Regions from separate parts of the Homo sapiens genome. Here region 1 is linked to region 2. The links come from fine-mapping of genetic effects on gene expression. A gene starts in region 2. The other region holds a variant in brackets. All regions are shown on one strand. Distances are from middle to middle.

Region 1 (4,518 bases), 120 kb after region 2:
TGGGCACCTATGCCAAAGCAGACTTGGAGTTTGGCATCCTGTAGACCTTGATTTACGTAATTGATCTTTTTACAGCTCCTGGAAGAGGGAGCTATCTCTCCTAACTATGGGTGAAGAAACTGAAGCTTGAGGAGGTTGCCACTTTCCCAAGGTCACACAGCTTGTCAGTGGTCTATTTGGGATTTGAACTCCAGTGCAATGCCAGAATCCTTGTTCTTTACTTCTGTGGGGCACCACTTCTCTGCACCTGCCATTTGGTCTTCATTTGGGAGGCTTCCTTTAGATCCAGTTCCAGGCAAAACTGTGATTCCTCTTTTCTTGGATTGGACTGGCAGGTGCCCCTCAACTTCATGGAAGTGAAGAAAATTGTATCAGAAACATTATAAAACCATCTTCAAAAGAAGATGAAATTAGCTGGGCAACTTTGAAGCATAAGGTGTGTTTATTCTTCAAAGTTGCATGGTACAAGAAAAGTCAAAAAACTTTTGTCATGTAGAAAATACAAAAAGTAAAGTGTGCTTTGGTGTCACTTGGCTGATAATTTTCAATACTATCACGTCTACACAGCTTGTAGTCTGCCCTTGTGCCCATGCAGCTTTGCTCTTTTGTAATAGCAAATACTAATAATAGCAAGCACATATATAGCACTTGTAATGCGCCTGTGGCTGACTGTTCTAAGAGCACTTGCTTTGTAACTTACTAGCTTCATAACTAACTTAGTCTCCACCACAAACCCATGAGACAGATACTATTATCATCCTCAATTTACAGAATTTACAGGTGAGGAAAGTGAAGCACAGAGCAGTTAAGTAACTTCAAGGTCATGCAGCAAGTAAGGGGCAGAAGTGGGATTTGAACTTGGGCACTGCGATTCCAGAGTCTGTGTTCTTAACCATGCTTATATAAACTCTTCGTCAGCTTTGTATCACTTCAGTGCACAAGTTTCTTGCTCTGCTTTGGTGGTGTATTCTGTTGGGTGCGACCCTTCAGCTGGGGTCCCTCGCTTGGATATTGTACTCTGCACTTAGCATTTCTGTCTGAAGGCAGCTGTTGTATTGATGATGGAGCTGTGCGCCCCAGGGGCCTTGGCTTTTCCTTCTCCCTGTGTGCAGCCCAGTGCTGCATCTTGCCAGGACCTTGCATGCTTGCCCCTCTACTCAGGAGGAACACTTGCTTCTTTGATAAATGCATTTTGGCCGCACATCCTGTGCTGGCTCTTGTCTAAGCGTTAAGAGGTGTGGAAGCAACACAAAGCCCACTGGGGACCTCTCCTCTCTCCTGTACCCTCTGCCCAGCTCCATCCTTTTCCAGAAGTCAAGGAAAATCGAAGATCCAGGGCAACCTTGAAGGGAAAAGTGATCACAAAGCAGCAGCCTGAGGCAGTTGTGGGCAGGGAGACAGCAGCCCCAGCCTTTGGTTGCAGTGAGCGGCTGGATGTGCTAAGGAGTCCCCAGGCAGCTGGGGACCCCAAGTCTCTGCAGCCTCAGCTCTGGCTAGACAATGTGCTTCTAGAGAGTGGGCCCCAAATCTGAATCATTTCTGGGCCTTTCAATGTGTCTAGCACAGAGCAGACCTTTAGTAACCATGTTCTGGATGAGCGAATTTGCCCCTTAGTCACTGTTTGGTGCTCAGGATTTCTCAGGGAGTCTTGGGGCCTGCATTAGCCACAGTCTCCAAAAGAAAATGGGTTCATCTCAGATGGTTCATCCCAGATGGTTAAAATGAAGAGGACTTAACTTAGGAATGATTTACAGAAGTGAGGGCAGCATGGAGGGAAAACAAGAAATGGCGAGGCACCTAGAGACAAGCTGCACTATCCCTAAGGCTGGAGAGATGGGACTGAAGTGGGGTAGAGAATGGTGCCCCTGGAGCAACTGTGCAAAGGAGGCCACTCTGCAGGAGCTACAGCCATGCAGGGATAGAGCCAGAGACGTGGCCCTGAAACAGGCAGGGTATAGGGAAGAAATGCCCTGACTTTTCTCTCTTCCCATATTCTGAACTCTGCCAGCTGTTCCTGCTTTGGCCCCCCTACAAACCCTACTGGATGCACAGCAAGGGAGCCTGGTGAGACAGTCCTCTGGTGTCAGCCTCCTGGGGCCTGAAGGGTGGAGAAAGGATGGGGAGAGGGATCAGGATATGGTCCTTCCTGTCTCTCCTGTCCACGCCCACTGACCACTGGCAGGAGGCCTTTCACTTCTCCTCTGCAGGAGGATGATTCTAGGAGCAGCCAGATCCTGGGGGCTTGGCCTGCTTTGGAGGAATCAATCCCTCCCTCTCCTCTCCTTTCTCCCTCCTTCCTTCATGCTCTT[C/T]TTTTCTCTTGCCCTTCATTTAGACTCCACATTTTACAGGCGTTACTTGTCCCTCTGACTCTGGGCACCCAGGCACTGCTTCTCTCGTCTCCTCCTTCTCAGCCTTTCTTTCCCATCTTCCGGTTCACTGAAAGAACCTTGGCTGCTAGGCCAGCCCTGGACCAGCCCAGAGCCAGGGGTAGCTTCTGAGCCAGGGATGGGAAGTTGCTACAAGCCAGAGTGTGTGGCAGCCTGGATGGTCAGGCTCTCTGCTCAGCTTCCCACTCCCCCAAACCAAAGCCACAGGCCTCTGGGTAGCAAGTAACCACCTGTGTTGCTGAGCACCACAGCTCTGGGCCCTTCTCCTCCACTATGGAAGAGGAAAGCAAGTGGTTCTGTATGTCTACAGATTTTTCTCAAAGAGAATTTTGCTGGGGAGTGGGCAGGGGAGGGGCCAGAGTAGAGCCATAGCATATATCTCTTTGTAGCCTAGGAAGAAGTTGAGCAAAAGAACCACTTTTCCAGTGGCTAGCCCGGTGGGGCTTCCATTGCTTTGTTCATTCGTTTGTAAATGTTTCTGGAGCACCTACTATGTGTCTACCACTGTGCCAGACCCTGAGGATTCAGAGATGGCTGTTGCTTCTGACGGGCGATGGCCCTGTTTAGTGCCTGTGGGTGTATTTTGCCAACTTGAGCTCATTCTAATGTGTACCATACAGGCTCTTACTGATATCAGGTGATGGGACTCAGCCTGCAGTCAGCCAGATTTTGTGCATGTGGGTAAAGAGAAGCAGGAGAGAAATTTCCTATTTCCTAGAAATTGTGTGACTCTGGACAAGCCACCTAGCTTCTCTCTGTGGCTTCTCTATCTGTGTGAAAGGTATACCTTTCCTTTGAGGAATTATAACTTTCCCATCCCATGGGGCTGTCAATCATGAGGCTTTGCCTCCTACATTGGAGGGCACTTGACACAGGCTGGCCAACCAGAGTACCCCATTCATCCATCTTGCACAATGATTCCTCTCAATGTAGGCATGGAATCCTGCCGGTGTCAGTGGGTTTTCTTCGACTGTTTCCCCACCTCCCAAACCGGCCTTTCTTAGTCGTCCTTATCTGAGTTGATGATAATTCTAGCATTCCTATTGCTCAGGCTCGAAATCTTGTAATCATTCTGGACACTTTTCTGTCAATCCACATCCCAGTCATTATTAAGTCATTTTGGCTCTATTTCAAAACATGCTCCAAATCTTACCACTGTCCCACTCTGGTGGAAGCCACCATGATCTCTGCCTGGGTTACTACAATAGTCTGCTAGCATCAGTCACGCCCCCTACAGTCAAGTCAGTTCCAGGAGCCAGTGTGAGTTTGTTGTTGTTGTTGTTGTTGTTGTTGTTGTTGTTGTTTTTGAGACGAAGTCTTGCTCTGTCGCCCAGGCTGGAGTGCAGTGGCACGATCTCGGCTCACTGCAACCTCCGCCTCCCAGGTTCAAGAGATTCTCCTGCCTCAGCCTCCCGAGTAGCTGTGATTACAGGCGCCTGCCACCACGCCTGGCTAAATTTTTGTATTTTCAGTAGAGACGGGGTTTCACCGTGTTAGCCAGGATGGTTTCGCTCTCCTGACCTCGTGATCCGCCCGCCCCGGCCTCCCAAAGTGCTGGGATTACAGGTGTGAGCCACCGTGCCACGTCTATTGTGAGCTTTTTAAAATGCATGTCAGGTCATGTCATTTCTCTGCCTCAAACTCTTCAGTGACAACCCATTTCCCTTTCTATGTGGCCAAAGGTATAATGCGCCTCCCAGTCACGCCCATTATTTCTCTGATCCTGTAATCTCTACTTCCTTCTCTCTCGCTCTGCTTAGTCACACTGATCCTTTCTTTGTGCATCCATCATGCCAGGCATACTTCCACTTCAGGCTCTGTGCATAGGCTGTTCCCTTTGCCTGAAATGCTCTTCCTCCACATACCTGCGTTGCACCCTCCTTTGCCTCCTTCAGCTCTTTGCTCCCATGCCAGCCACTTTCTCGGTGAGTTCTTCTCTACCCTCTACCTCCAATTTATAACATAACTCCTGGCACTCTTATCTCCCTTCCTTGTTTTATTTTCCTTGTGATTATCACTATGTTGCATACTATACATTTTACCTACTCATTTAGCTTTTTATTTGTTCTCCACCCTTCTTCCAATAGAACGTTTTATTCCATAAGAGCATGGGATTTACATTTGTTTTGTT
Region 2 (4,000 bases):
ATTTTTCCCTCCTCCCAGCCCCAGGCAACCACTAGTCTACTTTCTGTTTCTATGGATTTGCCTATTCTGGCAAATTTAACATAAGAGGTATCATACAATATGTGGGCTTTAATATCTGACTTCTTTATTTAGCATAATGTTTTCAAGGTTCATCCATGTTGTGGCATGTATCAGTACTTCATTCTTTGTGGCTGAATAATATTCCATTGTGTGGATATACTTCATTTGGTTTATCCATTCATCAATTGATGAACATTTGGGTTCTTTCTACTTTTTGGAAATTATGAATGATGCTTCTATGAACATTTGAGTATGAGTTTTTATGTGGACACAAGTTTTCAATTTTCTTGGATATATACCTAGGAGTGGAATTGTTGGGTCATATGGTAACTCTTTATTTAACTTTTTGAGGAATTGCCAAACTGTTTCCCAAGGCAGCCATACTGTTTTACAGTTTTACCAACAATGCATGAGAGTTCCGATTTCTCCACATTCTTTTCAACACTTGTTATTGTCCATTTAAAAAATTATAGCCATGCTAGTGGATATAAAGTGATGTGTCATTCTGGTTTTGATTTGCATTACCCTAATGACTGATGATGTTGAACAACTTTTCATGTGCACGTTGGCTATGTGTATATTTTATTTGAAAAAATGTTTATTCAAATTCTTTGCCCTTATTTAATTGGCTTGTCTTTTTACTTTCTTTGTTATTATTATTATTTTAGAGATGGGGTCTTTCTGTGTTGCCTAGGCTGGCCTTGAACTCCTGGGCTCAAGTGATCCTTCTGCCTCAGCCTCCTGAGTAGCTGGGATTATGGGTGCTGGCTTATTTTTTCACTTTCTTGATAGTGTACTTTGAAGCACAAAATTTTTAGTTTTGATGAAGTCCAATTTATATATTTGTTTCTTTTGTTGCTTATGACCATCTGCTTTTTAAATTAAACTCAGAAATCCTAAAGCTTTTCCATTAAGCACAACAAATAATAAAACTATATATCTTAATTCCATGTTGTAGCAATTTAAGGGGGTGGAATTGACGTCAGGGAGAGGGAGAAGGTGGGGGTAGACTCTTTACTTGGACTTTAGACCTCAAAGTCTGAATGTTAGCAACTGCCTTTGAGCATTGAGCACATAATCATCAAGGATAACTAACTCTTTGGAAACTGCCTTAATCACTAAACCTTCAGTAGCTTTCTTCTGGAAGGGGTGAAGCCCCTGCTACCAAGAAGGAGCTCACTCTCTGCACTGCAGCAATGTTACCTAAGGACAAGTGAAAATGAAGATAAAGTGTCAGAAAAAGGGAAAGCTTTGCAGTCAGGCTGTTAGGAGTCTCCACTGGGTTCTCTGGAACTAGATGCTGCAACAGAGGTAGAAGTGCAAAGGGGAGGATCACCTGTGAGTGGAAAAGGGAGGAAGCAGTTTGGCCAGGAGGAGCTCTTGGCTTCTGATGCAGACTTGACAAAGCCTCTGCCAGTCTAACAGGGTGCTCTGAGCAAAAATTGCTTGTTAGAGGAGTTCCGCATTGGTAGAAGAGGGATGGGCCTTTGTACTACCACCTTGCTCAGCCATTGGCTAGGGGCTGCCTTAAGAAGAGAGTGACTGTGGCTTAAAAACTCAGGTGGTCCTTGAAGGAACTAATTGCTGGGGGCAAATAAAACCAACATTCTTGGTAGCAGGGGAGTGAGTCCTTTATTGAAGGGGCAATGTAAGCATGGCATCTCTGTGTCTGTCTACCACACAGACAAACATGAAGTTCAAATTCCAACAACATGTGACCTTAGGCAACCACTCTGCCTCAGTTTTTTCATCTGTAAAATGGAGAAAATGCTTTCCTTACAGGGTTGTGGGAGGATTAAATAAGACAAGAATGAACATAGTGCCTGATACAGCACAGGCATTCAATAAGTATTAGTTCTTCCCTTTCCCCCAGATGAAAATAAGCCAAGGGAACATTCTGTTCTGCAAACCAGTTCCCACCCTGCTCTTTCTAAACTTCATTTTCTTTCAATTTCCAGTAGGGGACCAAGCCTCTGCGGCAGTTTCCTGATCTTCTGGATATGCTGCCACGCTGTCCCAGGGCTGGTGGTGTCCCCTGACTTGTTCCTCTCCTGACTTTCTCAGCCTGGAGACTGAAAGCTCTCTTTGGCTGTTGGCCCTCCCAGGCAGAGTCCACTGGCTGTTAGGGTGAAATGGGGCTGATGCTTCCTGGAATCCACCAGAAGTATGCAAATTGCACCATCTCTTTCAGCTGCCTGCGCCTGCATTCCATCGAGGATTCCGGTAAGAAGAAACCATCCTGTTCCTCTTTCTAAGTGCCTCATTAAAGCTGGAGGACAAATTCCTCCTGCTTCTCTTGCCCTGGGAGGTGAGACAGCACCTGAATGGGAAGAGGAGGTTGTGCTCCGCGTGACATCATCCTTCATGGGGTACTCTGACCACAGGGACACTGGTGTCCAAGGCCCAGGTACTTCCTGTGTGCCTGATTCACTGGGGAGTCTCAACTCGTTGGGGTATAAACATGAAAAGATTTTATTTCTTCCAGTAACTGCCCTGGCTGTGCTGTGCCAGATCTCTCTTTCCTGCTGAGGAGCCGCTCCCTTAACGACATCTTGGTCTGGTTCCATAACTTTTCAGCCACTTTCGGTTACTATAACAGTCTCATTCCAGTAATTAAGACTCAGCCTCTTATATTTTTAAAACTTTCATTGCAAACTCGATTCAGAGCTCTTCTCTCCCCTTCCCTCCAGCACAAGTGAGAGTTGGGTCCTGGTTGTTTGGAGCAGTGGAGGGGAAGTAGGGCCTGGCTTGAAGATGCCTCACCTCCTCCCTCTTTGAGGCCTCAGCATCTGTATTTGGGCAGAGAGGAGGGATGGAGAGTAAGAGACCTCTTTACAGGAGTGTCCTTTTCCCCTTCCTGTTCTTTGTGGCTCTGTTAGATGCTGAAGATCTCACCCCACCCTCCTCCATCACTGAACACCACCCTTTCCCCCTCCTTCCCTCACACAGATGCACCTCTCTTTAGCCTCAACAGTGGTACAGGTGCCCAACGACCCTTTGTTGACTTGGCCATGGGTACCTGGGCAAACCCTCAGCTCCTGCCCTTCCACTGACTTCCGTGCATCTCCATGCAGAGCCACAGGGCCTGCAGGAATCCTCTCCCATAATCCTTCAAGGGCCCCACAGACCTGGGAAGGGAGAGCTGCCCCCATCTTCTTCCCAGTCATGCTGCCCCAGGGTCCTTCGAGCCCTGCCGGATGGGCTACTGTAGTGGGCCTCTTGCTTTCAGAATCTCCCAGACTCAGATGGATACCAGTCTCTACATTCAAGTGCAGTCCCAGCCCTCAAAGTAAGTTCATCAGGCATCCTGCTTTTCCTTCCCACAGTGGGGTAGGTGAACAACAAGGGCACTGGGCTGCAGTCCTAGGCTTCCAGGATGGCAAGGACTCTGACAGTGAGCTGTGCCTCTGAGGCATCAGGGAGAGTCTGGATTCCCTCTCCCCTCACACTGGGGCAGGAAAGCACCCTTATCATCTCCACAGGGGCGTGAAGGGTGACTCTTCCTTGATCTCTCTCAGTCCTGCTCCTGACTGGACGTGGGCTGGGTGCCGGTCCATTTAGAGGGTGCTGGTGCCTTGAACAGCAGTGTGTGGAGGTGGCTGGCTCCATCTGCTGGCGGCTTGCTGGTAATTCTGTGGGGTTGCTTGGCTCCTCTTGGCTGTGGGTCTAGCATAATGGGGACACACGCTAGGACATGCACAGCTGCAGGCAGTGCTATCCTGTCTCTTCTCTTTTAACCTGTGTTGAAGTTGTCCTTCCTCCTGAAAGGATTTCTTGATTAATTCCCACCATTTGACATGCTCCTTCACTGCACAACCTCAGCGCTGAGACTCTCAATTGGTAGTAAGTTCATGTGCCCGCAAGTGAAATGTCTCTTGAGTAGTTTTCATGTGTTTTGAGGATAGTTAGTGTTTATTGAGCTCTTCCATGTGCCATCTAC

Alleles and levels. Alleles are on the strand shown, and positions count from the first base shown. SD is a standard deviation of normalised expression in the study named.
In carriers of allele C in region 1, the expression in prefrontal cortex of the gene that starts at base 2,038 in region 2 tends to be lower than with T alone (small effect, 0.27 SD a copy in ROSMAP).

The links. PIP is the estimated chance that this variant, and not a neighbour inherited with it, causes the effect.
Region 1: its variant is the best candidate, but not a certain one, in a credible set for the expression of LINC02884 in prefrontal cortex (ROSMAP, PIP 0.55).

What each region holds. Positions count from the first base shown.
Region 1 is chr1:112,241,430-112,245,947 of GRCh38, reverse strand. The region is part of intron 1 of LINC02884 (long intergenic non-protein coding RNA 2884); the gene reads left to right. Among named protein-coding and RNA genes, the nearest start is that of LINC02884, 120 kb to the left of the region's middle. The variant C/T (reference allele first, on the strand shown) is at 2,310.
Region 2 is chr1:112,358,645-112,362,644 of GRCh38, reverse strand. It overlaps LINC02884 (long intergenic non-protein coding RNA 2884), which reads left to right and starts at 2,038. Exons shown (of 2, transcript NR_183466.1): 1 at 2,038-2,283.